Linked DNA regions of Homo sapiens. The protein of the gene in region 2 interacts with the protein of the main gene of each other region in a pairwise test. Each region holds a gene or a part of one and is shown on either strand. Other genes may lie near its edges.

Region 1 (8,696 bases), on a different chromosome or scaffold from region 2:
AGAATAAAAATTCCTAGGAAGAATTTAAGAAAAGAAAACCAAGTCCAAAAATCTGCTGGATCTATGGACATATCTCCTGTTTGAGCAGCGACCCTGTGTCTACTCTCATCAGTCCATGGCTACCCCAAGCAGCCCCGGTGGAGACCTGGTAAATATCCTCTAAGTGCATGGTCATTCCCTTCATTCTGTCAACCACATGGAGTGTGCAGGACAGGGCAACGACTCACTGAAAAGGAGTGCACAGAGAGCCTCATTCTACATAGAGACAGCCCTTCTGCTGCCCTGAGGACCTCATCAGAATTGAGTAAATAATTTGGCCAGGAATTGCCCAGATCACACGTACTTGCAGTCCTCGCTTTCCAGAAGGTTCCGGTACGTGGCAATCTCATTCTCCAGCCGGGTCTTCACGTCCAGCAGCACCTGGTACTCCTGGTTTTGCCGCTCCAGGTCGGCCCGGATCTCAGACAGCTGCTCCTCCACGTTGCTGATGAGGCTCTGCATCTGGGCCAGCTCCGTGCCGAAGCGGTCCTCGGCTTCACACAGGGAGTTCTGCAGACAGTCCTTCTGTAGTGGGAAATAAGGGGATAAAATATACAAGGCCCCAAGGGAAACTGCTACATGCCTCAAATTTTGATGGTGATAACAGGTGGGAGAAACTTGGGTAGTGAGACCTCCAAAATAAAATGCTACTAGGCCATGGCACGGGGCATTTGCAGTGCAGTGAGAGTGAAGGACACGTACCAAGGTGTGCTGGGCTTGGCGCTCCACCTCCAGGGCATTCACCGTGCATCTCAGCTCCAGGATCTCCGACTGGCAGCACTGCAGCTCCTCGGAGCAGGACATGTCCTGCAGGCTGATGCCTTCAGACTGGAGCACAGAGAGACACGGTCACCTCCCTGCCCAGATGGAGGCCAGGTACCCCCTGGTTCTATACCCCCCCCACTCACCTGGGCTTGGAACCACTGTTCCACATCCTGGCGGTTGGTCTCCAACATGGCCTCATACTGAGCCCGCATCTCCCCCAGCACCCTGTTCAGGTCAATGGTGGGCTCAATGTCCAGCTCAATCCGGAGCTTCTCCCCCAGCTGACTCCTCAGAATCTTTACTTCCTGCAGAAGGGAGGAAGGGACAGACAGCCTGCATGAGGAAAGGGCCTTTGATGGAGCAGACAGCACCAGGACCCCGCCCCTGGCAAGCAGTAGGAGGGGAGTCCCACACACAAGCAAATGGGAAAGTCTTGCCCAGAGGGCATTCGGGAGAGCCCACCTGCACACCTTCCTCATGCCCAAGGCAAGTCTGCACTTTCCACAGAGGCCCTCTGGACCCTCAGACCCACCTCAGCCCTGCATCCTGATGCCAGCTGAGGCCAGGCAATGCTCTGAGAGCCCGGGGCTGGGGAGCTCCCCTGTCTGCCCAGTGCCCTCCCCAGGAGTTTGAGCGCCCAGGGCCACACCTGCTCGTGGTTGCTCTTGAGGGAGAGCTGCTCCTCCTTCAGGGACTCCTGCTGGGCCTCCAGGTCGGCCTTGGCCAGGGTCGCATCATCCAGGAGCTTCTGTGTCCCACACTTGTCTGCCTCCACCAGCTGGCGCAGGGAGCGCTCACTCTCCAGCCTTTCATCACAGGAGGTACAGGGTCAAAAAGAATGCCCCCAAGAGCCCCTCTCGGCTGCCCTGGCTTCCTACCTCCCACACCACCTTGGATCCTCATTTATTCACTCTGTTTAGCCCTCTGTCCTCAAAGGTGAATTAGACCCAGCCCCTCTTCTCAAAGAGCTCATGGTCTAATGGAGAAATCACAACACTACATTGCACAATATACATTTTTGCCATTGTATTCTGTGGCAACTGCAGTTCAGGAAGATCAACTGACTTGCGTAAGATCATGCATCTTGGGACCCAGTCCAACGCTCATGCCATTGCAGGGGCTGTCAGTTACCAAAGATAAGCAATAACCAGGTGCCTGATCGTGATCTGCGGCTCCTTATCCCTTGCTTTCAGCTGTCTTCCCCTCTCTCATTTTTGCCTAGGTACCTTATACCTGGTACCTTAGGGCTCCCTAATTAAATCTGGACAAAGACTCATCTGTAAGTGACTCCTCTGACTTATATATGAAACCCAATGGCTGTCTTGCTCAGTTCATCCTTCAAATCACCTCATTTTGCTCCTGGTTAATGAACTCAGGCTGCCTTATCCTCCATTTTAGGGAAATAAATGAAGGAAGACAAACATATATGCTTGGATTAATGAGGAGTTTTCCCTTCCATCTTCCATCAGCTTCGATTGTAATGAAAATTTTACTGTAGAGAATCTAGCAAGGAAGAAATGACAATGATTCCCTCACTCAACAAGTATTTGGGCATTGGGATGGAGGGTGGGGAAGGAGTCACCCTGGCCCTCCTCCGCCTGACTTACTTGATCCTAAAGTCATCGGCAGCCAGCTTGGCATTGTCAATTTGTACAATCAGCCTGGCATTCTCGGCCTTGCTGCACAGGATCTGAGGAGAACAGGAAGACAGTTCACACACAAAGCATCATGCCCTAGGCTCCTTCTCCACGTGTGGTGTCTATGATCATGTCCAAGAGAAACCAAGAACCCAAAGTTCTCTGAGCTTTACATGGATTCCTCCTGTCTTGCCTCTGCCATCTCAGACCCAGCACACCCAAGCGATCCCACACCTCACCTTCTGTTGGAGCTCCTCGATGGTGTGGAAGTAAGACTGGTAGTCGGGGCACACGGTGGACTCGTGGCACTTGCTCCTCTCGAGGAGTGTGGCCTCCAGCTCCGCATTCTCCTGCTCCAGCTGGCGCACCTTCTCCAGGTAGTTGGCCAGGCGGTCATTCAGGAACTGCATGGTCTCCTTCTCATGGCCATTCAGGGTGTTTTCACCATAGGCCCCACAGATTCCAATGTTGCCAGGAATGTGGCAGGTCCCTGGCAAGGGACAAGCAGTGTGGCAGGTAGGCGGCAGACAGAGGCTGGGGCGGCCCAGGGGAGTGGACCCCACACGGACTCGGTTGGCATGTGCCACGTTGGCCAAAAGGCACATGGGGGCAATGTTGGCCTCTGCCCCAGGCTGGCACCCAATGTCGATGGGAGAGACAGAGACATTTCTTGCTCCAGGAGCCATGGTGCAACCCAGAGGGCATGAGGAGCTGCTGTAGGAAGAGGTCATGGTGTTGGGCTGAGGCTGCACAGGAGCTTCAGATCAGCTGGGAAAGCTGAACCACTGAGACTGAAGCCTCCTCTCCTCCCAGCCCTTTTATACCCCATCCTGGGCGGGTGTTGGCTCCAATGCTTTGACCTCCTGCCTTGATTATCTACCTGTTGTGGTGCCATCATCCTGTTACTCAGCTGCTGAGTTTACCATGAAAAGTTTCTCAGCTCGTTAAAGGAATGTTGACGAATCTGAGGCCTCTTGGCTCTTTGAAATCAGGTTGGCTGTTGATGGGAGGTCAGAAGCTTTTTATTATCTTTCAAAGAAGCAAAGTTATAGCCATCAGATGCTTAGACCTTGACTGGGTTTGGCCTCTTTATGGATGTGTCCACTCTGGAGACACAAACTTTCCTGTTGGTCAGTGGTGTAGCAGGAGGACTAACCCCGGTGATGACAATGGTTCTCACTTGGGTTAAGACTCAACCAGCCTTCCCTATCCAGGGAAGAAACTGAGTCTTGGAATTGGTGGATGTTATGGCCTTGGGTTATCAAGAAGTCCTACATTTCTTCTTTCTTTAGTTGGTTGCCTTTCAGACTCACTTTGAGGAGCAACAAGACTTAGATGAATCCAGTCACTCAAAACACATCCCCTGGCTACGTCCCATATGCTACGCACCTTGCTGATGCTTGATATATAGTTGGTTAAGCACAAAATAGTTCCTGCCATTGGGGAACAACTGTAACTTGGGTAGACGTGATGTTTCAAACAAGGTATCTGAGAAGCTCATGAAAATGAGGATGACTCCAAAAACCATGGCTTATCTCGACCAAGAAGGGCAAGCTCAAGAAGCCAGAAATAAACAAAGAGAAATGAGCAATAATCTTACTGAACCTCAAATAAGAACTTGGTCATGAAAGTCAAAGGACATTGAGTGATCAGAGCCTCTGTGGGCTCTCTTCATACCTTGCTTCCTTTATTCTAAAGTCAGTCATGAGCCTTCACCCTATGAGCTAGGGGATTGAGCAATGATACCTTTTAATCTTTACTTCCAACCTGGGAGGTGGGTACTCTTAATTTTACAAAATAAATAAACAAGCCATTGAGGACAGTTTTCTAAGATCAACCTCACTATAAAGTATAAAGCCTATTCTCAACATCAGCTTCTTTCAACTCCAGAAACTGTTTCTTCACCTTGACCACCTCCAAATCCTCCACCCCAAGGATAACTACTGTGTCATTGCTAGAACTAAGAAGGATTCAAATTCCTAGAAACCGGGCAAGAAGTTGAAATTAAGATGTAAAACAAAAATCTGACATTGTGTATTTTTCCCTTTGTATCTCAGAAAATACAGATGTGGAGGTATTCATACAATAAAACAGAGTTTCTCCAAGGGCTAAATCAGAAGATGCCAGGGGAAAGTCCTGTCCCTAAAATGGTTATATTACACATTCCACATTCAGATAGTTCTTGGTACTAGGGATCCAAGACACATGGCTGCTGAGATCCCAAAACTTTTCTCCCAAAATTTGTGACAGAAGATACATAGACCCCTGAGACTAAGAAAAACCTAATGTGGAACAATCCAAAGTGATTATAACTAGAATTTTGGGAAAATGAGTTTTTGCCAGTCCCCTGAGCATTGAACAAAAGCTGAACATACACCTCTATAGGGATCAGACGTGCATATGTGAAACACAGGCTATTGGAGTTCTATCAAGAAGAAATACAGAATCTGAGAATTCAGTCCAGATTGGGCTTCTCAGGAAAGTAAGTAGTAGTGAGCGCTGACCTAAGGGTTATTCAGAGCTCACCAATCCATAACCCTTTACAGACAACATCATTGGGAGACATCACCAGGGCAGGCTGTCCCATCCTCCAGAGGCCACTGGGTGCAATCTGCATATGTTACATCTTCAAACACCCTTTTGTTACTCTCCTCCGCCTCATCACATAGCAACAAGCTTCTCTATAAATCAGAGAGCCAGGCTTTTAAAGTCATTTCCTTTGATTTGCTAAGTAGCACCCATCTTTTGGCTTTATCCTCTGCCCAGATTCATTCCATGGACTAAAAGCCACGATTTCGTCCATTCACAATACATGACTCATCACTGCTGAAGCCTTGTGTGTCCAGATGACACCCCTCTCTGCCAACTGGCTTGGGTCCTGGCTTGGGCTTCTACCTTGTACTGTTTTGCATAATGATACTGATGTTGCATGGCTCTTTGTAAAATCGCTTTGTTCCCCTGATTTGTATTTTCTCAAAGGAGGTGAAGGAGCGGGTGGGGATCCTAAGACTCTCTTCCTTCCCAACCCTTTAAAAAGAGTCCCTGTGGCCCCTGGTGACCGAATATGAGGCCAGGTTCAGTAACAAGAAGTGATGAATACAGAGTGTGAGAGATGGGAGCCTGCTGCCCTCCTTCATTCACCTGTGTGCACAACATTCTCTGTGTGGATTCTGACTTTAGACATGCCGATCTCTAGAGGCATGAAGTCTACTGCAAATGGAGGTGAGGAGCTGTGGTCTTGGAATGCCATTTTCACTAATTTTGATACATAGGGGCATATCTCAACCAATGGGAGAGAAAGGTATGGAGCTGTAGGCTAGCACCTGGAGATTGTGCCTAACTCAAAGTTTATCTTTTCTGTGTCATGGCTCCTACTGCTGGAAGATGCAGGGAGGCATCTAGGGAGTTGTGCCCTGTGTGGGAACGTCACCCATCACACATTGCAGTGAATGCAAAGATTTATGACAAGTACTATATGTAGAGTTAGTGCTGCCACATCTCCAGGGTGTTAGAAAATGGTGTCCCAAACAATCCTAGATCAAGAAACCATGAAGACTCTTGAGAGAAGAGGCTGAGCATATAAATGTATTATTCTAGGTATCCAACTCCTGAGGCTTTGATGAATGGAAAAGGTACACTTCTGTTCAAATTAAATATGATTTTATCTATATATGAATGTATGCTCATTTGTGATTAAGAAATACAAACTAAAGAGATATTGTTTTCTTATCAGGTTTTGCTAAGTTGGATAATAGCACACAGTGTTGGCATGAGTGTGGGAAACAAGTCCTATCCTCTCCTGTGGATGACAGTCACGAGCTTCCACCTCTGCACATAGGCACAGAAACCGGGGCCCGTGCGTTGGGACCTGTGAGCCTCACACCTGCCTCTGATGGCATCATTTGCTGCTCCAGGCTTCACTGCAATCGACCCACTTGGAGAGTAGCTCAGGAGGCTCACCCTGCCCTGGCAAGCAATAGTGAGGGAAGAGACTCCAGAAGATGAATTAGAAAGAGTTGGAAAATCTTTGAGAAGCAAGACCCTAAGAAGGGAAGAAAATATAGAATTCTGTTTCAACCAGAATAAAAACAGATCTTTGGCACAGGTCAAAGATCCTCATTGTGGAAAATATTGAACTGCTTTCTGTTGCTCATTACAAACCCATGATTATGAAACATGCTGAGTCTGAAACAGCTCAGTGGCCGTTCTCTGTCACAGATAGATTGAGCTGTGTGGGCTCACTCATGCTCTCTGCAAAGCCTTCTCTGGCTTCCCAGGTAGGCTGCTCTCCCTCTGCTGACACACTCTTCTCACCCTGGGAAACTGTGGCTGTATCAGAGGTGGTAGCTCCCCACCATGGACTTGGGATCTCCAGGACATCAGGGAGTTTGTCTCATTGCTTTTTCCTCTTTCATCTCCATATCCCCAGACTCTGGCACAGAGCCCGGCTACAGAGTAGGTTCTGCATCCATGTGTGTTTAATTATGTAAGCAGGTAATGAGAAACACAGTAGCACCAAGCAAAGATATTTGTATGCTGAAACAATGAAGTAAAATCATAGATTCTTAAGCAATGTGGATAAATACACAACCAGAGATATGCCGGCAAATTAGCTCTCTGGGGGGAAAACCCCTCCAGTTTGTAGTGTAAGCCAATTTCTGTGGTGTAAATACTCCCACAATAGCCAACTTCAAGCAAACAATATGATGTCACTGAATGTGGAGTTGGAAAGAGATGTGAAAAATCGGCTCTTGTGAGTTATAAGAGTTAGCTCCAGCGTACCACTTGATCCCACTTTCTAAAACCAAAATCCTGACAGTACATTTCTTACATAGTAATTTTTTTTATAAATCCTACAGAGAAACCAAAGGTAGATCACATTTGATGACACAGGCAAGAGACCTGCCCCTAGAGAAGAGGAAGGCATTATGGCCATGGTGCCACCCACAACTGCTTCATCTTCTCACCAGTCACTGAGATGCTGTGGTTCCCCCCAGGGCCCCACGGTCCCAGCTGCGAACTCAGGCAGCCTCTGGAAAGGGCAGAACCAGCTAGTTTGATTGCACATCACTGGGAACAACCCTTCTCTGCTGATGCAGGATGCTTCTCTCAAGTCACCTTCAAGTCTTTCTCAGATAGTGACACTGACAAAGGAAAGGTACAAGCCCAAGTGAGGCACTTAGCAAGCATTAGGCAGGGATAAGCCAGCACAGAGGAGATGACATTTGATAAAGAAAACTGTATAGATTTATGTTGGTTTTTATGTTGTGTTGAGAAAAATTACTCTCTGGACATTTTCCTAAGCTGGTCGTGTCAGCCTGTAGGGCAGTGGTTCTCAGAGTTTGGTTTCTTAGCCAGTAGCATCAGCATCTCGCAGGAACTTGTTAGAAATCCACATTCTCAGATGCCCACTCCAGACCTACTGAATGCAGATACACTGGGTGCAGGGGAGGGGGCAGCAATCTGTGTTTTTCCTTGTTTGTTTGTGTGTGTGTTTTGTTTTTGTTTTTTTGAAACAGGGTCTCACTCTATCACCCGGGCTGGAGTGCAGTGGCACAATCTCAGCTCACTGTAGCCTCGACCTCCCAGGCTTAAGCAATCTTCCCACCTCAGCCTCCCCAGTAGAGGGGATTACAGGCACATGCCACCACACCCAGCTAATTTTTGTATTTTTTGTAAAGACAGGGTTTTGCCATGTTGCCCAGGCTGGTCGCGAATGCCTGAGCTCAAGTGGTCTGCCCGCTTCAACTTCCCCAAGTGCTGGAATTACAGGTGTGAGCCACCATGCCCGGCCATAATCTGTGTTTTAACAAGCCATCCAGGTGATTCTAAGGAATGCTCAAACTTGATAACCATCGCTCTAAGAGAAGGGAATAGTCCCAAACACAGTGATTAGAAACGTCTGGGACAAACATGCTTCCCCTCACCTCACATCCCTTTGGAAACCAGTTGAGAACAACTTCTAATTTTGACTATACACCAGAATCCCCCAGGGGGCCATCTCATCCTTACAAGGAGCACACCCTGATCCTCTCTCAGGGTGCACTGTCTATTCTGTTATTTACAAAAAAAAAAAAAAAAAAAAAAAAAGGCCAGGCTTGGCAGCTCATGCCCATAATCCCAGCATTTTGAGAGTCTAAGGCGGGTGGATCAACTGAGGTCAGCAGTTCGAGACCAGCCTGGCCAACATGGCAAAGCCCTATCTCTACTAAAAATACAAAAAAATTAGCCAAGCATGGTGGTGCATGCCTATAA
Region 2 (7,112 bases):
ATTTTTCTGTCACTTCACCACCATAAACTCCTACTCTAAATGGTGGTCCAGTAGCATTTTGAGACCCTAGCAACTAGCATCAATTCAGAACCAGAAATATTCCCAAAGGTCTGAGTATTTCTATTCCCCAATTCACAGTCCCTCTAGAAAGTGGCCACAGGTCCCTTTGGGAAAGGGGACTTGAAGCACTGCTACAAGTATATACTGTAATTTTTATATACTGGATTCTTTCTCAAGAGAACCCAGCGTCCCCTTAAATTAAGGAGTTCTGGCCCTTGAACTATTTTAGTCTGGAAATTGGATGAGTCATGACTCTCCCTTCTGGTAGACCTGACGTTATTTCATTTACTTTTTTGTTGGTTTGTTGAGACAGGGTCTTGCTCTGTCGCCCAGGCTGTAGTGCAGTGACATGATCAAGACTCACTACAATGTCAACCTCCCAGGCTCAAGTGATCCTCCCACCTCACCCTCCCATGTAGTTAGGACCACAGGCACATGCCACCACACCTGGCAATTTTTCGATTATTTGTAGAGATGAGATCTCCCTATGTTGCCAAGGCTGGTCTCAAACTCCTGTGCTCAAGTGATCCTACTACCTTGGCCTACCAAAATGTTGGGATTACAGACATAAGCCACCACACTTGGCCTTCATTTTCATTCATTCAACAAATATGTATTGACACATTCTACTCAGTACAAATTCGTGTATTATACATTCTATATTCTTATATGGAATATATATTTTTATAGAATATATTAAATGGAATATATAGAATATATCCTTATATGGAATATATAGACTATATTCCTGTATGGAATATAGGTATGGGGATAGTATTCACAAAACAAAAACAAAAACAAAAAAAAACAAAAACTGAAGTACAAGGAGATGAGACTTTTGTTAAAATATCTTTTAATTTTACCGGCAAAATACATCAATGACTAATATATTCCCGTATGGAATATATTCTTATTGGAATATATTCTTATATAGAATATATAGACTATGTATATATACATATGTGTATATACCTATATACATATATATATCTTGGAGATATAAAACTAATTGGGAATAATGTCATATATATAGATAGTAAGCAAACATTTTTTAAAACATTTTAAAGACTCCAAACTATTCATTTCTATCCACCTATAAAAAACTAGCAATTAAACCTGTCAAATCACAGCCATCTTGCTTTACGCAGATTCAGAAACATGAGATCCTTTTACCTTTGAAACTCTAGTTTCAAAGCTGTTCTAAAGTGACTTGGTTTTAATTTATATACTTGCAGGGATAAGAAGTAGCTGTAGGGCCATAAAAATGTAAAGAATACAGTATCGTGCCCATACACAACTGCAAACACTTATTTTTAAGTGTTCGTAAAAGATAGTGGTCTTCAGAAACACCCCTTTTCAGATTGGCAAACTTTCAGAGTTCAAAAGTGCATGTATTACACTTTTATCCCCAACAAAGCTAGTAGCTACCCTCTAAAGCAGAGGTTAACATTTTCTTTTTCCAAACCACAGAATGGATTATGATCCCATGTGCATACTCCCATGGTTCCCTTCCCCAAGTTGTATGAAAAAATAAAGCAAATAATTCTGAGGTTTTAGGGGTAGTGGTATAGGGATAGTATTCACACACAAAAAAACTGAAGTACAAGGATATGAGACTTTTGTTAAAATATCTTTTAAAGTAATTTTACTGGCAAAATACATAAATGATTAACCAGTTTTAAAATAGTAAACTTATTTATTTATTTATTTTTGAGACGGGGTTTCACTCTCTCACCAGGCTGGAGTGCAGTGGCATGATCTTGGCTCACTGCAACCTCCGCCTCCTGGGTTCAAGCGATTCTCCTGCCTCAGCCTCCCGAGTAGCTGGGACTACAGGCGCACACCACCACACCCAGCTAATTTTTGTATTTTTAGTACAGACAGGGTTTCACCATGTTGGCCAGGATGGTCTTGATCTCTTAATTTTGTGATCTGCCAGCCTCGGCCTCCCAAAGTGCTGGGATTACAGGTGTGAGCCACCATGCCCTGTCAAAATATTAAACTTACTAATACATTGTAATTTTTAGTACTTCTATAATTACTGCTTCATAAAAAAGTGGATTTTTCCAGCTCTCCAGTTCAGATGCTATTAACAGGTAATCAGATAGCACTGACTAAGTAGAAATAGATTAAGAGTAATACCTAAATTTAATGTATTTTAGCATATTGAAATGAGTATCATCAGTGTATATTTCATTTATCACTTTGTCTACACTTTATTAGGTGGCCTTAATGCTTGTCATTGACAAATGTTAACTTTCCTCACAAAACCTACACTATTCACTTTTTTCCAGTATTTTTACCTTCCTTATTAAAAATGTTTCTACCATCAAGAATTTAAAATAGAATCATGACATTGCAATCCAAACACTACCTTGGCTTGCCAGATTAGTCTACGTGTCACTCCTTGGTGTAAAGCTATAATTCCAACTTCCAGCAAAGAAGTATCTCTGAATTCAAATGAGAATGACATTTCTATGGGAATAAATGTGAACTGTCTCACATTTAACCATTAAGAATTTACTCATACGTCATCATGATAACCTAATGTTAGACTGAGAATCACTGCTCTAGTGTGGCTCCAGAAGCTGTCAGTCAGGAACTACTGATACGATTTCACTTGTCCAATAATTTTATACTTCCATCTTGTAGTACAAAAACATTTTAATTTTGGCCTGATAAATGACTAAAACAATTGCCGGGGGAATTCAGAGAGACACGTTTCATTATTCAATTCCTAACTGAATTGACCCTCATTGATCCTCAGACTAATTTAGACACTTTTCAATAACATTCACAGTCAATCTCAAAGAGAATATTATTTTTGAATTCTTGCTATTGAAGTTAACATTTACATCTAAAAGAAAATCATCATCCTTATTGGACAAGTAGAACTCAAACAAACAAACAAAAAAACTCTAGTCATAATAATGAAAATACTGAGTTTCTGATGTACAAAGAGTAAAATATTCATATACTGGAAAAATGGTGCAGTATAAATGGGCAAAATTTCACTCTTTCTAGTAGGAAGTCAATAAATAATTGATGTATCAAAAAGTAGCGGTATAATCATACAATTTGGAAATATAAATTCTTCAACTACTAGAATTGAAAGAGGAAGTTTCTTCTGTCAATGTGAAAGAGGGACTGCCTCTTTTTTTGTCACAAGCCTTTTAGAACTGTAAGATTTTTTAAAACTGTTTGCATATAATGTTTGAAGGTGGGAATGGGACCAGAGAGGCGACAATTTTACCTGGAGAAACAACCTCCCGAAACCATTTAGTAAGTAAAGTGAATTCCATCACACCTACACCCATTCACTGTTTTTATTTTTTTTTTGAGACATGTTCTCACTCTGTTGCCCAGGCTGGAGTGAAGTGACACGAACTGGGCTCACTGCAATCTCTGCCTCCCAGGTTCAAGCGATTCTCATGCCTCAGCCTCCTGAGTAGCTGGAATTACAACTGTGCACCATCATGCCCAGCTAATTTTTGTATTTTAGTAGAGATGGGGTTTTGCCATGCTGGCTAGACTGGTCACTGTTTTTATTTTATAATTAATTTTAGCTAAAGCATATGGGTTCATTTACAAAAATAAGTTTGGTCTTTTATTATAAATACTTCTAGTTGTAAAAAATTCATTTTCACATTTGAATGTCCTTGAAAGTATCCAAAGGATTCATTCTCCTTCTGCATTCTGCTTCTCAGAAAGTACTTTTGGGTTAGATCTGTTCCGAATTCTTTTTCTTTTTCTTTTCTTTTCAGAAGCAGATGATTGTGTGTCCGGTGCCTTTTTCTTTTTCTTCAAACAACTAAGAGGATTGGGACCACTTATTTTCTTGCGCTTTTTTCTTCTACTCTGTTCAGTGTTTTTCACTAAACCCTGTTCCTCTTTGAGATGTTTGATACTTTCTTTCTCATGCACTGAGACAAGCTGACCTGACTCCACTGCTTTTACAAAGGCAATTGTTTTGGGAGAAGGTTTGTCCAAAACCATAGTGTTCTGAATAATAAACATGAGAGGAACTCCAGGCTTCTTTTTTACTTTCACAGACAAATTCTGATCCTATTTAAAAGAAAACAGAATTATTTAGTTCAAATGTCAATTAAGGTACCTTAAATAGGTTTTCAAGAACTGTATTAAAAATAAAAGAGATCACAGATTTTATTTTTCAAATGAGTAAGCCTCACTTATTCATTTGAGTAATGGGGGTATATTTCATGATAAAGGAAGAAAAACATAAAAACTGAGCACAGTGTTAGTAGCAGCTGTGTGAACCGGATTTATCGATACTCTAGAGCCACAAATTACAAACTAATGCAAAGGTAAATGTGTTAGGTGGGTTTCTCCTGTTTCCACTCTAAGATATTCTTTGGAAAGGGTCAAGAATGCTTAAAGAGGTTAAAGGAAAAGAAACTGGGTAGTAATTAGCTACTCAGATTCTAAATTCAGCTCTACCTCTGTGTAATTTTATAATTCTGATAATCAAATCTGTATGTATGTGAACTTAATATCACCCCCAAAAGTCTCTCTTCTCCTGCCTTCAAGAAGATGGGAATATTTTTCTTCAAAAGCCTGAAATATTTCATACTGTTGGTACAGTCTTAAGCAGTATGAACCATGACTTTGAGAAACAGTATGAAATACAGGAACATGAAAAAAATTAACAGAATACAGGCACTTTGCTCTACTTATCTTCCCTTCAAGAACCCTACAACAAATCATCACATCTCATGTCAACAATTTCTTGTTTTAAAAAAAGAAACTTCTGCCAGTGTCCAGCATGATGGCAAACACCTGTAATCCCAGGTACTCAGGAGCTGAGGTGGAAGGATCACTTTAGCCTAGGGGTTCGAGACCAGCCTAGGCAATATAGTGAGACCCTCAAGTCTCAAGAAACAAACAAAAAAAGCAAAACAAAGGAATCATTAAAAAAAACAAAACCCAACCTTCCACTACTAAAAAGAATATCAACATGCTTAAAGTTTTCCTCAAATTCTCAAATGACAATTGCTTTTACTGACTGCAAATTAACTTAGAAGCCTGTATTTTTAAAAGTCTAATCATTCTAACTTTTTTCTGATTATAAATAGCTCCATATGAAGTATAAATAGAAATGGTGAAAATTGCCTGTGGTTTTAAAAGTAGTATCACCTGTGTTGCCACAAAATAATGATGAGGATTTCCCTCTTCAACCATGGAAAGCAGACATTCTGATCCACTCACTGCATTCTTGAAATGAGGACAATTTCGAACTTGGCATTTTTGTGCAATCAGTTTTGCCCCATATAAGTCCTTTCCCAATGTTTCTAGCTCTTTTAACACACATCTGAAAAGAAAAATTATAGCAGATACATTTCACTTGTTTACATAAGGTGTAAAAAACAATAGTCGATTTTTTCTTAAAATAAAACTATGCTGTTACAATCTAAATTTGTCATCTGGTAACCATTTACTTTAAAAGATCACTTGAAAAATGCATTTACCAAGTAGGAAGAACAACAGTTAAAATTAACTGAGCACTTATTATGTTCCATGTAGTATGCAAATTGCTCTTTACATAAATTCTTGATTAATCTCAAAGTAACCCTATGAAGTTAGGTCGCTTACCTTGAAATTATCCTTATTTTAGAGCACCCCATTCTGAGATTTCAAGTAACATGCCAAAGTTCAAGTAACTAGCAAGTGGTACCGAGACTTGCAGTTTGACAACAGCTCCCTTGTCCCAACCATAGCGTAATAAGCTTCTGCTTCAAGTACAAATTGGTATACTTTCAAAACATTTTCAATTCAGAACAGTAAAACTTCTCACATCATCAAGTTGTTTTTAAAAAAACATTTAGTCATAAGAGTTCCTCAACCCTAGCCAGCATTTGCCAGATTCTTTCTTGCTTCATCTCCTTTATCATCTTTCTGTTTCAAGAAGATTTTGCTTGCTTTAGTCATTAGACTTGACCTCTATTTTGAGTACTGCCAGCCTGTGGATGTCCTGCTATCAACTCTTCAAATTCACCATGTCTAAGATCAAACCACTTTCCTGTATCCAAATTTATCCTCCAAGACTTGCTATCTCTTTGAAATTACTATTTTCCCAGACACCCTAGATAGAAATCAGAAATCACATTTGACCTTCCTGCCCTTCTTCACCCATACTCCTATGCCATCAGCTGCTCAACCTATCTATCTCAGTAACGTAGCGTTTCTTTGGAGAACCCTTGGGTTCCTGCCTTTCCTCTCCCAGGTTTAGGCTCCCCTTACTTCTTGATTAAACAACCGCAAAACAGATTCATGCCTTTGCTCTCTTGTTTCTCCAATTTACCCTTCACATCACTGCAGTTATCTTTTCTAAAATAAAACCCAGGCCTGATAACATTCTGCTGTTCTACTTCATCAATTAACTCCACACATCTTCAAACCTGAATATCAGTAAACTCTGTAGAGACCTAACTACTAGTGGCCAAGAAATATATTCCACTGAAAAACGAATGACCTGATTTCTTAAAAACATAAATTGCAAAATTTAAAGGGAGGGGAAACTGCCAAAATTTTTAAAAACTGCCTGGCATGGTGGCTCATGCCTGTAATCCCCATGCTTTGGGGGCCGAGGTGGGTGGATCACCTGCGGTCAGGAGTTCAAGACGAGCCTGGTCAACGTGGTGAAACATTGTCTCTGCTAAAAAATACAAAAATTAGTAGGACGTGGTGTCACACATCTGTAATCTCAGCTACTTGGGAGGCTGATGTAGGGAAATCACTTGAACCCGGGAGGCGGAGGCTGCAGTGAGCCATGATCGCACCACTGCACTCCAGCCTGGGCAATAAAGTGAGACTCCATCTCAAAAATAAATTTTTTTAAAAAACTTAAGTGACATATAAATCAAATGTAATATATGTATTTAGTTTGAATACTGATTTTTAAAAGCCTTCTTTATCTTTTCAAGATACATGCCAAAGAAGTGATAAATAATATGCTCCAAAGCAACCCATCAGTAAGGAGAGGTGAGGGATTCAACAAGATTGGCCATGTTAATAACTGCAAAAGCTGGAGAGAG
Region 3 (8,551 bases), on a different chromosome or scaffold from region 2:
TTGGAAAGAAAGTAAATATACATCAATATCAGCTTGGAAAATAAATTGTGGCACATTCATAATACTATAAAACTATATAGGATAGTGAGAAAGATGAAGTTTTTCATATATACACAGAATGATTTCATATGATTAAAACAAAAAGAAAAATAATAGAATATATTCATTTTTGCATAAAGGTGGGGAAAGAGCAAATTTTTTTTGTATTGTTGTATAAGCGTATTGTCTTCCTGGAAGGATACATAGGACACCAGTAACATTGGAACACTGGTTCCCCATGAAAAAGGCAAACAACTGGGGAACAGCTATCCACGTATAATTCTGTCTATTATTCATATATACACATACTTCAATTTATCCTACATTTTTTAAAAAGGGGAAAGTTTCACGTTATCAAATTCTTTAGGCCAGGCACTGTGGCTCACACCTGTAATCACAGCACTTTGGGACACCAAGGCAAGAGGACTGCTTGAGGCCAGGAGTTCAAGACCAGCCTGGGCAACACAGCGAGACCCTGTCTCTACAAAAAAAAATCAAAAACTGAGGTGGGAGGATCATTTGAGCCCAGGAGGTCGAGGTTGCTATGAGCCATGATCGTGCCATTGCACTCCCACCTGGGTGACAGAGTGAGAACCTGCCTCAAAAAAAAAAAATTCAATTAAATATAGAAAAAATATTCATAGGCTGGGTGCGGTGGCTCACGCCTGTAATCTCAGCACTTTGGGAGGCCAAGGCGGGCAGATCACGAGGTCAGGAGATTGAGACCATCCTGGCTAACGTGGTGAAATCCCATCTCTACCAAAAATACAAAAAATTAGCCAGGCGCGGTGGCGGGCACCTGTAGTCCCAGCTACTCGGGAGGCTGAGGCAGGAGAATGGTATGAACCTAAGAGGCGGAGCTTGCAGTGAGCCAAGATTGTGCCACTGCCCTCCAGCCTGGGCGACAGAGTGAGGCTCTGTCTCAAAAATTCACAATAGAATTTGATATAAAATAAATGCAACATTTTATAAATGCTGTATTATGATACTCTAATAAAGTAAATTTATGACAATAAACTCCAAAGAACCATATTAAAATTGTTTAGTTCATTTCAATCCTGTATCTCTGATCCCATCACTATACAAAGATTTAAAAGAACTTCCTTATGCTGTTAATGTATTTTTCAAAAAGCACTAATAAAATTCCATTGATTAGCAAACCAAACACAGGTCCAAAAATAAAGTTACTAGACTATTTTGCATCAACTCGGTAAATAATACAGCAAGAAAATATTTCCTCAGTATCTATAAATAGGAATTGTGGTTAACAGCAAAAAACCCTAGATAGGAAAAAGCTCTTAATTTTACACTTCAAAAAATGCCAAAAAAGCTTCAAACTTATTACTTGTAAATCAAACTGTAATCAATCAGATATTTTATTTTATGTTGTTATTTATTATTATTATTATTTTTTTTTTGAGAAAGGGTCTCACTCTGTCAGCCAGGCTGGAGAGTAGTGGCCTGAGCATGGTTCACTGCAGCCTTGACCTCCCAAGCTCAGACAATCCTCCTGCCTCAGACTCCCAAGTAGCTGGTACCACAGGCATGTGCCACTACGCCTGGCTAATTTTTTTTTATTATTATTTGTAGAGATAGGATCTCACCATGTTGCCCAGGCTGGTCTCAAACTCTGGGGCTCAAGCAATCCTCCCACCTCAGCCTCCCAAAGTGCTGAGATTAAAGGTGTGAAACTTTCTGTGATACATTTTTAAATGTCAGTTATTTCACAATATCAGATTTTTTATCTTTTATTTTTCAGATGGAGTCTCACTCTGTCACCCAGGCTGGAATGCAGTGGCACAAACTCAGCTCACTGCAACCTCCGCCTCCTGGGTTCAAGTGATTCTCCTACCTCAGCCTCCTGAGTAACTGGGATTAACAGGCCCACACCACAATGCCTGGCTACGTTTTGTATTATTAGTAGAGACGGGGTTTCGCCATGTTGGCCAGGCTAGTCTCAAACTCCTGACCTCAAGTGATCCGCCCACTTTGGCCTCCCAAAGTGCTTCCCAGGCACTTTGTGCTTTACAGGCGTGTGCCACCGCGCCTAGCCACAATATCAGATTTTTATGTTACTGTTTTCTCTAATGATAAAAGCCATGTCATTATCAACTTGTTCACAAGCAAAAGGCCATTTTACACAGTATTAGCATTATATACTTCAACTTTTACCTTCCAATAAATACTTCTTGCTTTCATCTATAGAAATGACAGTGAGATTTTTTTAGTTTATGCTACTATACCTACTACAAATTATGGCATGAAGATTTTGTCAGAAAGGACTATTTCATTGCACAGTTCAGGAATATTTTACATGTTAAGATGAAAATGAACAAGGTGAGCCTCCAATGTATCAAATTCTGTGCTGTAAGAAACTGGAGTTACATCAGGCTTTGGTACACTTTTGAGACTGTAAGGCAAACAGGGTAACAAAAAAATAGATACTGCAATGATACCCATTCCAATTATGAAATAAAACTTAAACTTCAAGTTAATTCACAAACTGCTCTTCAAGTATTCTCTACTTAGCAAAAGCACAATTCAATAAATAAAATCTCAGTCACACAACATGCCTAATAATGAGGGCTCCTTTGCATATCAGATATGCCGTGTACCTGTAGAATAACTTCATTAGTACCTAAAGGTCATCTGAATCAACAACCACCAATATTCACTGATACTAAATTGTGGGAAGAAATGTCTCATTTGCTGTCATATAAAACCAACATTACCTGAATAATCATAGGTGTCTACTTTTCAAGATGTGAAAAAAACTTCATATATTACCTTGATCAGTAATTCATAACCCTGGTTGCACATTAAAATAACTTCTGGTAATTCCTAAAATATACTGATGTCAACCTCATCAGAACTGGAGGAGGAGTGCATCAGTAGTGTACTAAAACTCCTCAGTGATCCTAATATGTAGCCAGGAATGAGAATTATCAATCTCTTAGATTAGAGATGCTCCTGAAGGTTACTCTATAAACCAATGGGATCAGTTCTCCCCTCCATATCTTTCCGTGCACAACAGTGGAAGGGAAAAATGAGTGCCACATATTTCAAATGATTTTTTAGCAAATTGATTCTGGAGCATGTATACATGGTAGAATCTCAAACTTCAAGCATAAGAAAATTCATAAACTCTATCGTTAATGCCCAGCTATGACGATGCTGCAGACTTGTGCAAAGAGTTAATAGACTGTACTACTAACAGGGGAGGGGGCAGCTCACCCAATAACAGATGTCTGATTACAGACGCAGTACAAGAGCGAAAAGTACAGACTTTAAAGCCGGTCAACCCGGGGCTCTGCCACACACTGTTTACCTAAACCTGGGTTTCCTCCCTGTAAAATGGGAATTCACATCTACTTCATAAGTAGATATTAACGAGCTAAAACACCTAACTTAGTACGTAGTTACGATGATGATGACTCAATTTATAATACTAAGCTAATTAATGTCTGTTGAGTTTAACTAAAAGCAGAGGACCTGGAGAAAAGACCGGTCTAGGTCACTGCCACTGGCCCGCAAGCTCCTTTTCACAAATGTCCCGATGATGACATGTCATGAGCAGAAGACCAGGCAATTTCAGGCCATAGGAGAGAAAGGATGCAGAGGACAGGACGAGACTTGTAATGCCAAAAGGGGCCCAGAGGCCGCGCATCCCACCTATCGAAGCCTGGGCCGCGGCGATGCCGCCAGGTCTCCAGGATGAACCGAAGGGAGGCCGATGGTGGAGAATAGAGCACGCAAGGTCCCTCACCTTCACTACAGCTGTCCCCCGGCTGCCCTGCCGGCCACTGTCTACTCCCGCTCCGAGCTTGTTTACAACCAGGGTAGCCATCCTCGCAGGGGAAGCGCCACAGAAACAGCCTTCAGAGTCCTCAACTGAGAGGCGGGGTTGAGCCACCTACCCAGAGGCCTCTGCGCACGCCACCGGCGCACAGGCGCAGTAGGACACTGGGCGCCGCTTAGCCGACTCTTACTCCTCCTCCCCGCAATCGTCGGGTGGTTAGTTGCACAGCCTCGCGCATGGGCACTTTTGTTATTTTTCATTATGTAGTCTGCAGCTGCTGGAGGAAAGACAAGAAAAAAAAAGAAGGGACAAAACGATTAAAGTTTTGGGGTGAAAACTCCAGATCCTTTAATGATTTTTCCTCTCGAATCCAAACCAGCCAGGGCGTGAACTGAGGGCGGTGAGGGGGTACGGGCATCTCCCTGCATGCAACGCGGTTTTTGTATAAACTACAAATCCCAGCATGCCACTCTCTCTCTCTCTCTTTTTTTTTTTTTTTTTTTTTTTTAAAAAAAAAACTCCGGCAACGTTGGCCTTTGGGAGGCCGCGTATTGTTACCTAGGGGTGGTTTCTTTTCCTGCAGTCGCGATGTGTGATTGCAGATGGAAAACAAAGTATTTTATGCCTACGTTTCTAAGATAGAAGAAATGGACTTGTTGAAAAGAAGCCAGTTTGTAAAGGACACAGTAGGAGAATTTAAGGTACCACCACCAGAGAGAGGTTGAGAGTGCGTTTGACTTTTGGTTTTGCCAAACGCGAGGTTTTCCGTTTCCTTCCGGGGCAAGTTGAACCTGTCCAGCCCCCGTAGGCTGTGGGTCAAAAGTGCCGGTCAAAATGGAAGTGAATCCCCCTAAACAGGAGCACCTGCTGGCGCTAAAAGGTAAACTTTTGCGAACCTGATTCCCCCTTTTCTGTTTCCTTGCATTCCCTACTTATCGAAGCCTTTGCCATGTAGGCCTCATCCTTCTTAAACACTCAGTGCTCGCCCTCCTGCTCTGTCCTTTGCCGCCAAGCGGGAGGAAGCGATTTCTCCTGGATGCTTTTTAGGTTTATGGGCCCCTTTCTAGAACGAAATAGATACCTGGTAAATCGTTCTTTCTGATCTGTGCTGCTTCAGTCACGAGATTTTAGCCGCAGAAGCTGACGTCCCGCTCCTACCGTGGAGATCTCTGTGAATTACAGCGGGCATCCAAAGTGCTTTTTCCTTCTGTCTCTTGTTTCTTCCTGTGGCACTGACGAAGTTAATCAGGCTTCAGCTTCCCCTGTAAAATTAGTATTGCATGACAGTAGTGCAGAGAATTTAGCAATACATAGTAATACAACATATAACTTAGATTTATTCAAAACAAACTGCAGTTTACTTCAAATCACTGTGTATGTGGGAAATATGTCCGAGATCTAATGTCAACTCTCATTTTTTGTACACAGCCATTTTGAGTAAGTTTGGTGATTTAATTAGATCATTATTTAGGAAAAAACAGCAGCACTTTTTTTTTTAGGACAATTTTTTTAATGCCTATTTTCTGGAAACCTTTTATTTGAAATCTTTTCAGCTTTATTTTATTTGTTTTTTACTACAACAAATGCGCTTTTTGTTTCTTGGATGCCTTAATATATGGTTAACAATGACTTCTTGAATGAGCTGAGGAAATGCTCAATAAACATTCGGGTTCAATTGAATTGCGCTTACTTTACTTATGGCATCCATTTTGAGGAACGCCTTATCCTTCCCATTATGATGTAGTCATCAGACTTTCTAGAAGCTCATCAGTCTCATATAATGATGCCTGTGTTAGCGAGATTGTCTCTTACTGTGGAACTTTGTAATGTTTAGTGATACAGTGATGGGACCTGTAAGCTTAACCTGAGCAAATGATCTAGACTAAAATGGAGATTAAAATGGATTGTTACTCGTGGAGAAGAGGGAAAAGAAGAAAAGCAACTAATTGTCGTGTTCTTTATCTCACAATCTCACTTCAAGTATGTGGAGTAAATATTAATTCTCAGAGTTTAAGTAACTTTTCCAAGATCACATAGCTAGTGATTGAGGCAGTGTTTCAACGCAAGGCCTGCCTCTCTTTCCAAGAGTCCGTGTTGCCTCCTAAAGAATGAAGCAGCATTCTCAGAGATAATTCCTCTACCAGCTACTCCGATGGGAATTTGGAACAGTTCTATTAACTGCTACGTGTGATTTATACAAATTAGAAGCTATTAAAAACAGTTAAATTGCAGCCGCGCGTGGTGGCTCACCCCTGTAATCCCAGCAGTTTGGGAGGCCAAGGCGGGTGATCACAAGGTCAAGAGATCAAGACCATCCTGGCTAACATAGTGAAACCCCGTCTCTATAAAAATACAAAAAGTTAGCCAGGCGTGGTGGCGGGCGCCTGTAGTCCCAGTTACTCAGGAGGCTGAGGCAGGAGAATGGCGTGAACCCGGGAGGCGGAGCTTGCAGTGATCCGAGATCACGCCACTGCACGCCATCCTAGGCAACAGAGCGAGACTCCATCTCAAAAAACAAACAAACAAAAAGTTAAATTCCAGTGATACAGAGACTGCCACTGGGAATTTTTAGTTTTCTGTTATTCTTTTTTTTCCAAAACCAAGGATACCTAAGAAAGAATATTTAAGCAGCCTAAGCCAGGCGTGGTGGCTCACGCCTGTAATAGCACTTTGGGAGGCCGAGGCTGGCAGATCACTTGAGATCAGGAGTTGACACCAGCCTGGCCAACATGGCGAAAACCCGTCTATACCAAAAATACAAAAATTAGCCAGGTGTGGTGGTGTAATCCCAGCTACTCGGGAGACTGAGGCAGGAGAACCGCTTGAACCTGGGAGGCAGAGGCTGCAGTGAGCTGAGATTGCGCCACTGCACTCCAGCCTGGGTGACAGAGTGAGACCCTGTCTCAAAAAAAAAAAAAAAAAAAAAAAAAAGAACAATAAGCAGCCTAAACGGACAAGTGCTTCAAAATTGACTGATAGTTTCAACTTTATTAAACCTCTTTAGTACCATCTTATAGTTAACCCATTGTTCTAGTTAATCAACAATTTTCACACATTTCAATGTGCTGATGCTGAATGCCAAATGTATTAATTTAAGTGGTCATTTAAGTTCACTTTATCTTTTAATATGTAAAATGTTAAAGATAATATCTTGTTATTCTTGGTTGGGTGAGGTGGCTGATCACTTGAGATCAGGAGTTCGAGACCAGCCTAGCCAACATTATGAAACCCCGTCTCTACTGAAAATACAAAAATTAGCCAGGCGTGATGGTGTGCACCAGTGGTCCCAGCTACTCAGGAGGCTGAGGCACAAGAATCACTTGACCCTGGGAGGCGAAGGTTGCTGTAAGCCGAGATTGTGCCACTGCACTCTAACCTGGGCAACAAAGACTCTGTCTCAAAAAAAAAAAAAAAGTCATCCCTTGAGTATAACACTGATTGACTTTAGACAACAAGAGAATTTCTCAGTGCCATATTTTACAATGTGAAAGTATAAGGAACAGGGAAGAAAAACATTAGTGCATCATTAGTTCTTGAAAGTATATATGATAACATTTAGATCCATATTTAAAATATGGATGTTAAAGATCACAATTATTTATGAATTTGAGAGTTGTCAGATCTGTTAGTGGGCAGTATCAGTAGGTAAAAATAATGAAATTATTTCTTCTAACTCTTCAGAATCAGACAGTGATTCTATTGTGAAATGATGACAAGAATCCATACTCATGGTTATCCTAGCAGTGGGAGAACCCTCATCAAGTAATTCTCTAATGATTTTTGGGGAGAAGGGATTCAACTTATTTTTTTCTGCTGTTGTTAGGATGTGAAAAAGTCTGTTTTATGGCTCTTACAGCTTTGGGCCTGATTAGCAAGCCTAACTTGCAGATATTGGAAGGCTCCATTCTTGAGCCTATGCACCATATGCTGGAATTTATTATCAGTGACTTAATTTGGGGCAACTTGAGGACTTCTGTGCTCTAAGAGAAAAAAATAGGAGTCTAGACTTCTTGTTCTCTTCCAAACTGGAATTCAAAAGCCATGGTATTGGGGTCTCCATACTGTTTAATTGCCTGGATTATGAGGAGAAGACAGTGTCACAAAACTGGTTCTTAGCCTGGTTAAACCATATTAGCAAAGTTAAACCATATTAATGGTTTTAGTTTTTACTACAGAGAATGACGTGAAATCATCAAATATTCTATCTATATATTTGTTTGGTGGAATCCATATAATTTTTTTTTTTTTTTTGAGACGGAGTCTTGCCCTGTCACCCAGGCTGGAGTGCAATGGGAGTACGATGGCGCGATCTCAGTTCACTGCAAACCTCAACCTCCCGGGTTCAAGCGATTCTCCTCCCTCAGCCTCCTGAGTAGCTGGGATTACAGGCACACGCCACCACAGCCGGCTATTTTTTGTATCTTTAGTAGAGCCGGAGTTTCACCATGTTGGCCAGGCTGGTCTCAAGCTCCTGACCTCGTGATCTGCCCGCCTTGGCCCCCATAAAGTTCTGGGATTACAGGCATGAGCCACCGCACCTGGCAAATCTACATAATTTTAAGTATAAAATGATTAATTTTCTTCCAGACAGATTAGAATTTTTTTTTTTTTTAATGAGATGAAGTCTTGCTCTATCGCCCAGGCTGAGTGGCATGATCTTGGCTCACTGCAACCTCTGGCTCCCAGGTTCAAGCTATTCTCCTGCCTCAGCTT
Region 4 (7,629 bases), on a different chromosome or scaffold from region 2:
GGGAGAAATAATGCCAATCTAACCCAAACTTTTCCAGAAAACCGTGGGGTAGACACAGTGTCGGCGAGGGTGCTAGGGATTAGGGGACGGAGGCTGAGGCCTCACGGGTGGCAGGGATGCCCTTGGTGGGCTCTGGCCATGGACACAGACTCCTGGGATGAGAGGGGGACTCATGGAGGAACACCCACGCCTTGACCCTGAGATGGCCTTGCAGGGAGGGTAACTGAAAATTTACCCACTGGGGACAGTTGCCTACTTACTAAAACAGTTCCAGCCACCACCGCAGCCCCTGGAAGGCCATCCCCCCAGAAAATCCCCCAGGTCTCAGCAGGGCCTTGTCCACCTGTGCCCTCCAGTGTCGCCCATGTCAACCTCACCTAAGAGGGGCCTGACGCACGGTCCTGCAGGTGCGGACTCTGGGTCCTGAAAGCCCATGCGGAACCTGGTGCCCCCAGAGGAGGGCCTGGGGCAGTGCCAGTTTTGGGGAATCATGTGCATCCATCCACCCACTCCATGATGCTTTCGTCCTGATCGAGTCCCTTGTCTCCTGCGCAGGTGCAGCAGCCCCTCCCTCTCCCCCCGCATTGCTGCTAAGCGGGCAGAACTCTCGGGCGGGCGGCACACAGGGAGGGTGACCAGGCCTGGAGGCTGCGGTGCCCGGACCCCAGGCCAGCTTCCTGGAAGGTGACCCTGCAGGGTGGGCTCTCCCAGGTGGGACAGTGGGTGGGACAGTCCTGGGGCCTGGAGAGCCCCACAGCCCAGGGCACGGCAGCCAATGACCAGGCTCAGGAAGACCCAGGCATGGAGGCTGAGCCGGGACTGAGCCTTCCTGGGCGTGGCTGTGAGTTCCACCTGGTGACCCCCTGGAGGAGTTAGGCCACTGTCCCCCGTGACTTCTAGGTTAAGTCACTCATTCATAGAAACAGTCATGGCTAGAGACCAATCTGAGCTCAAAACCATGTATCCCCAGGAGCACTACAGAAAAAGAGAATCAGGCGACCAAGGGGAGTTTATTGGGGAGCAGGAGGAGGTGCTGACAGGTTCAAGTCGAGGCCAAGTGACATGGGGCAGAGAAGCTGGGAGGGAGGACAGGGGACCCAACAGGCAGGTGGGCCCCTGCTGGGAGGCAGGAGCTGGGGAGCTTCGAGGATGGAGATTCCTGGGAGTATGGAGGGGGGGGTCACCTCAGCACATGGGGGCCCCGTCCCAAGCGGGGGCAACCTCCTAACCCGAGTCAGGACCAGTTGGCCCTGGGGGATGTGCACATCAGCAACTGGACTCCTGGCCTGAGCAGAGGCCTCAGCAGGCCAGGGGGGAGCACGCGGGGCGGCAGAGGAGGGACACGCAGGAGGCCGGGCGGCAGCAGCTGGCCTGGTAGGAGGAGGCAGGGGCACAGCAGGAGGAGATGGGCAGGCAGCAGGCGGGCCTGCATATGGGGCGGCAGAGGAGGGACACGGAGGAGGAGGGTCTGCAGCAGGAGGTGGTGCAGCAAGCCGGCTGACAGCTAGACTGCTGGCAGCATGAAGTGGAAGCCCCAGAGCAGACGGGCACACAGCAGATGGGTTTGCAGCAGACAGGCTTGCAACAGACAGGCACGTAGCAGGACTGCTGGCAGGGGGAGGAGGTGCAGCAAGTCGGCTGGCAGCTAGAATGCTGGCAGCATGAAGAGGAATCCTCAGAACAGGTGGGCACACAGCACACGGGCTTGCAGCAGACAGGCACACAGCAGGACTGCTGGCAGGAGGAAGAGGCACAGCAAGTTGGCTGGCAGCTAGACTGCTGGCAGCATGAAGAGGAATCCTTAGAGCAGGTGGGCAGGCAGCACACAGGCTTGCAGCAGACGGGCACGCAGCAGGCCTGCTGGCAGGGGGAGGAGGCGCAGCAAGCCGGCTGGCAGCACGAGGGCGTGCAGGAGCTGGTGCAGCCTGATTGGCAGGGGCTGGGCTCACAGGCCGCCTGGCAGCAGGGGCTGGACACACAGCTCACTGGGGTGCAGACCAGGGTCAGGCAGGGGGCGGTGCCGCAGGGGGGCTCACAGCAGCTCTCTGGGCAGTCGTCCACTCGCCAGGAGTCAGAGCAAGCGCTGGAGCAGACGGACATGGTGCACGCGGCCATGCTGGGGTGGGGAAGACGTGAGCTGGGAGCTGGGGGAGGTGTGAGTGAGTGAGTGTGTGAGTGAGTGAAGGAGGGAGTGAGTGAGTGAGGTGCTCAGGGCTGTGGGGCTTTTAAATCCCTCCCTGGCGTGTGTTGTCCCGACAGGAGGCTCCACAAGCTTCTCTTCCTTGTTGGTGTTTAGAGCTGGTGGCTGGAGATGCGTCATTCATGCTGGTTTATCTGTTTGTTTTTCCCTCATTAAACTTGTGTGTATGTTGCAGGGCCGTGTTTCTTCATCGGTTCTTATTTTAGCCCCAGAAATGTGGTGGAAAATATTTCAAGCAAACTTTTGTTGAGTAGAGGTTTTAGAGATGAAGACTTCTCTAAAGGGAGGAATTCTAGTTTCACCTATCCTGTGTTTGGACTGATTGGATATATTTTATTACTTTTAGCATATTAAAATATAAATAGGTAGAAAAATATGCATTTCTTATAAAATGCAGCTGGCACAGAGGGTACGATGAAGCTAAGTGGCCCTCTCTTCAACCCCTTGTGCCTCGTAAGGGGAATGCTCAGAGATTTGGTATCTGGTGGATCTGTGCTTTATCCTTGTCTCTTCAGCTCTTCCATGCCACCCTCAGAGCCCTCTCTCTGTTTTATTTGAAGCTGCGCTCTGGGTTTTCTCCATTTTTATTTCCTCATGGTGACAGATCAAGTACTTTTTCACATATGGTGATTTTAGGACATACATTTTAAGATTTCTTTCTTGCCTAAAAATGTACTCAACTTTACCCTCACACTTATATGATAGTTTAGCTGGGTATATAATTCTGGTTTTAAGTCAGAATTATTATTATAAATAATAACAAAAAATCTGTTTTCTCAAAATGATGAACCTGTGTCACCATTTTTCTGTAGTGTCCAGCGTTGCTGATGAGAGACTGAGGTTGGTCATTTGTCATTTTTTATAGTTTGTCTCTCTCTCTCCGTTTAACTCTCTGGGAACATTTGGTTTTCTTTTTATTCTTCTTTTGTTTCTATGCGTGTGCATTATTTTACTTTCTGTGGTTAGAATTCATTGAGCCTTTCAATGTGGAGACTCAGGAAGTGTTTTGCGCTCTTAAAAATAACTCATCTCTCAAGGTCTTTCCTTTTGTGACTTTAATTTTGTCTCACGATGAATGAAATACATTTTTGGCTCACTGTAATGATGTTATGTTGAGCATTTAAACGTTTTTCCCCTCGTTTCACTGGACATCAGTTAAGCTCTGCTCATTGGTGGCAGTTCATTTGATTTTCTGAGTAAAAGACTATTTTATTCCAGGGCATTGGGGTCCTGATCCAGTTTACATTCTAATTTGTTTCCATCTGTTTCTCTTTTCTACAAATATATAAAGGATTTTAAAGAGCCTCCCTTTTTGTTAGACAATTTTGATTTTATTTTTTATAACTCTTTGAATATCCTTTCAGTGATTATTAGTAGAGGTTGTGCGAGAACTGTGTGCTTAACCCACTTTCTGGGACTGAAGGACTCGATGCTCCTTTCAGGAAATGACAGGAAAGCCAGGAAGGCTAGGATGACGTCATATCAGCGGGTGTGCTACAGACATGCACGGCGCAGGTGCGGTCTCCACATCAGCCACCGCGTGAGGGGTGACTCTGCAGCCCATTTTGACAGTTGCAGAAATGATGAGAGAAGATAAGTAACCTTGAAAGAGGACAGCTGGCCGGCAGTGAACCTGACAACCGCGAGCTCTCACTCCTTTCCCTCACGGCCATACATGGCTCCGTTCTGTCACACAGCTCCCAGAAGAGTGCGTGCTTCCTGAGTGGCAGGCAGGGAGGCAGGTGGTCCTGAGCCAGCGGGATGTGGTAAGGCTGACATGGCTTCTGGGACAAGCCCTGGGGCCTGTATGATAATTTGCTTTAGTTTTCCCATCGCTATCTCTGGCAGCCTCCTTAATCGAATGGGTGTGGTGATTCCTTGTCTCTTTATTCCTATTTGTGATCCACGCCCTCTGTCGCTCCCTTCTCCTGGTGTCTGGACCACCCATCACTGTCCAAAGTGTCTTTCCACAGTCATTGCTGTGCCCACAACAGCTCCAGGGTCTCAGTGTGCCTGATCTAAGTCCACGCCCTGCGCTCAGTGGAGACGTGTCTTTTTGGATCATGGAAATTTTCACTGGGGGCCACCATGGCAGTTTCCACGGACAATTGAATGATCACACCAATTTCTTTCTTTCTCTCTTTCTTTCTCTTTCTTTCTTTTCTTCCTTCTTTCTTTCTTTTCTTTTTTGACACACAGTCTCACTCTGTCACCCAGGCTGGAGTGCAGTGGTGCTGCAGGCCCCACCTCCCGGGTTCAAGCGATTCTCCTCCCTCAGCCTCCCGAGTAGCTGGGATTACAGGTGTGCACCACCACATCCAGCTATTTTTCTTTCTTTCTTTTTTTTTTTGTATTTTTAGTAGAGATGGGGTTTGGACATTTTGGCCAGGCTGGTCTCGAACTTATGGCCTCAAGTGATCCATCCGTTTCAGTCTCCCAAAAGTGCAGGCATTACAGATGTGAGCCACTGCACCCGGCCAGATCACATCATTTCTTAAATCAAGCAGACACTCTGGGGATCTGAGTGAGCTGAGCTGCAGGGATTAAACAGCCCTGGCTGGGGGAGGGAGGTGCTGGGAGGGGATGTGAGTCTGGAGGGCAGGGTGGCCCACGGCCGTGTCTTCTGCAAGTGACACACGTTTGGATTCTTCTTTTCCAAAATGTAGTCTTTTGTTTTATTTGACTCCCTTTCATCGTGGCTGGCTGCCCAGCACAACTCTGGAGACGCGATGACAGCAGCCCTCTGGTCTTGTTTCCAAAGTTAACAGAAGCACCTCCTGCAGCTCCGCACTAAGCCGGTGTTGGCTGGTTTGTCGCAAAGCCTTGGTCTCGTGCATGCAGTGTTTTTTCACTCTAGTTTACCAAGAATTTTGCCTCAGGCTTTTAAAGAAGGAGTGAGTTTGTTCATGTATGTGTGTGTGTGAATGTGTGTGTATTAATCTACTGAGTGTTCCAGTGGCTTTTCTACTTCTATTTTATGAGTATAGTTAATGATACCCTTTGTAACTTGAGTGATCTAAGATATACATTACTTGATAATGGCTCATTATCCCTTTTTCCCCAGCTTTATTGAGATGTAATTGACAAATAAGAATTATATAAATTCAGGATGTCTTGATACATGTACACATTGTGTGATGATTACCACGGTCAAGCTAATTAATATGTCCATCACCCATGCAGTTACCTTTATTTTGTGATGAGACATTTAAGGTGGACTCTCTTAGCAAATTTCAGTGTTACTGCGTCACATTCTGTGTTACAGTCAACTGTCCCCGTGCTGCACATGAGGTTTCCAGAACTGACTCATCCTGCACAGCTGAAGCTGTATCCTGTCATCAACATCAAAGTGGATAAAGCACACAGTTCTTGCACACCTGTATTAATAATCGCTGAAAGGATATTTAAAGAGTTATAAAAAATGAAAACTCCCTGCACCCCCGCCCCTGTGAACCCCCACTCTACTCTCTGCTTTGCCGAGCTTGGCTTTTTTAGATTCCACATATAAGCGAGGTCTGCAGTATTTGTCTTTCTGTGGCCTGGGTCACTTCACCTAGCATAGTGTGTGCAGGTTCATCCATGTTGCCACTAATGACAGGATCTCCCTCCTTTCTATGGCTGAATCGTATTCCATCGTGTGTATACACCACATTTTCTTTATCCACTCATCTGCTGATGGGCACTTATGTTGCTTCCATATCTTGGCTGTTGTGACTAGTGCTGCAGTTAGCATGGCAGTGCAGGTATCTCTTTGAGATCTGGCTTTAATTTGTCTTGTATATACAAGATTGCTCATCACATGGTAGTTCTATTTTTAATTTGCTGAGGAGCTTTGACACTGTCTTCCATAATGGCTGCATGTAACAGCTTAGTTTTTCTTTAACATAGGCACATAGAATCTCTTGCTTTATCTTTTTAAATGGGATTGATTTACAGTCCTCTCTCCCTCTCTCTCTCTCTCACACACAATTATTCCTGGTTTTGGCATCAGGGTCTCACCAGTCTTATATTAGAGGAATCCAGAAGATCTCTGTCTTCTTCTGAGCTCTGGAATATTTCAAGTATCACAGGAAGGTCTTATATTGAAGGCTGATGATATACACCTTTAAAACATCTGAGTCTGCCTTCTGAAGAATATCTTTCAATACCATTTCCATATTTTCCTGGACATCATTGTATTAAAAGTTTCATTTTGTTATTCAGTGTTGGTAATTTATATTTTTTAGAACACAGTCCATTCATTTATATTTTCAAATTTTAGGATAAACATACCCATGCTACTTTCTTTTACATAAAAACAAAAATCTCTCAATCTGTGGGCATGTTTCTTTTTCAATCTTTAATGTCTGCTTATTTTTATTAGACTGTATTTTTATTTTCTTTAGATTTTCCTTGATGAGCATCTGCGGATTTTTGTGGACATTTGAAAAGAGGGGGTCGTGCTCCTTCTTGTTAGAGATTGTTGAGTAAAAGTTTCAGAAAGCGTCATGGGTGGTAAACTTTCTGGATCCCTGTTGTTTAAGAACAGCCCTCCTGCTGACACCTGCCACAGCAGAGTCTAGGTGCAGAATTTCTTCCCTCCACCTTAGTAGAGGTTGGGCCACCAGTGTGTCTCAGATTTGCATAACTTTAATCTTCTTGTGAAGCTTTTCCTCTTTCCAGAACCTGGCACTATTCTCTCCTTGTACTTCATTCATTTCACCAGACCCCTCCCTAGTCACTGTCATCAGCTGTGTTCATCCCCTCGGTCCCATCTTCTTTTAGTTCAAGGAACTTTTATTCCCATATGGGTTTGATGATTTTCTTTCATTCTTGGCTTCTCTCCCCACTGTGATCCCAGAATCACAGACCCTGAGTCTCCTGGGTTCATCTCCCTTAGACCTCAGGCTTTTCTTGGCTTCATCTCTTTGTCCTTCTGCATTGGGTTTCGGTCATTTTCTGAACTGGGGGTCATGGTGTCAGCTCTTCTGCCTCAGGGTCTGTTATGAGGACTGCCATTGAATTCCATATGTTTGGAGTGTCACGATTTCAGTCTCCAGGAATCCAAGGTGTTTTCCTTTCTTCTCCTTCTCCTTTTTGGTAGCACTCTCTTCTTGTTTCATGGAGTAACGGCCTCTTTGTTTCATGCATTATTGTTTGTTTAGACTTTGCTTCTCTGTCATGCTGTGATTTCCTCATGCGTCTGAGGACCCTTAGTTGTTGTTCACGTTTTTAAGTGAGGGTCTAAACTGTTTGGCTTTCATTGCTGAAAGGTTCTCTGCATGTAGACACATGTCTTCTTCTCACAGAGCTGACACTGGGGCTCTCAGGGTGGGGCCTTGTCTGCCGCTGGCTGAGTACAGGGGCTTTGGTTCATTTTGGCATCCAGAACTTCCTGGGGTGTGGTCTCTTCCTCTCCATCCTAGGACCCAGGCTGGGAGCCTCCTGGG

What was found.
Region 1: the proteins of UTP23 (region 2) and KRT38 interact in binary tests that used the Homo sapiens proteins (3 or more experiments, as listed by UniProt).
Region 3: the proteins of UTP23 (region 2) and TRIM23 interact in binary tests that used the Homo sapiens proteins (3 or more experiments, as listed by UniProt).
Region 4: the proteins of UTP23 (region 2) and KRTAP10-5 interact in binary tests that used the Homo sapiens proteins (3 or more experiments, as listed by UniProt).

The regions. Positions count from the first base shown.
Region 1 is NC_000017.11:41,437,750-41,446,445, forward strand, and holds the start of KRT38 (keratin, type I cuticular Ha8), read right to left. Parts: upstream 3,235-8,696; 5' UTR 3,173-3,234; coding exon 2,681-3,172; intron 2,495-2,680; coding exon 2,412-2,494; intron 1,611-2,411; coding exon 1,454-1,610; intron 1,110-1,453; coding exon 948-1,109; intron 868-947; coding exon 742-867; intron 565-741; coding exon 344-564; intron 1-343.
Region 2 is NC_000008.11:116,768,469-116,775,580, reverse strand, and holds the end of UTP23 (rRNA-processing protein UTP23 homolog), read right to left. Parts: intron 5,390-7,112; coding exon 5,215-5,389; intron 4,126-5,214; coding exon 3,739-4,125; 3' UTR 897-3,738; downstream 1-896. UniProt on the Homo sapiens protein: Involved in rRNA-processing and ribosome biogenesis.
Region 3 is NC_000005.10:65,620,389-65,628,939, forward strand, and holds the start of TRIM23 (E3 ubiquitin-protein ligase TRIM23), read right to left. Parts: upstream 3,946-8,551; 5' UTR 3,887-3,945; coding exon 3,806-3,886; intron 1-3,805. Other genes in the region: TRAPPC13 (trafficking protein particle complex subunit 13), read left to right, coding at 4,673-4,718.
Region 4 is NC_000021.9:44,578,464-44,586,092, forward strand, and holds KRTAP10-5 (keratin-associated protein 10-5), read right to left. Parts: upstream 2,142-7,629; 5' UTR 2,116-2,141; coding exon 1,300-2,115; 3' UTR 992-1,299; downstream 1-991. UniProt on the Homo sapiens protein: In the hair cortex, hair keratin intermediate filaments are embedded in an interfilamentous matrix, consisting of hair keratin-associated proteins (KRTAP), which are essential for the formation of a rigid and resistant hair shaft through their extensive disulfide bond cross-linking with abundant cysteine residues of hair keratins.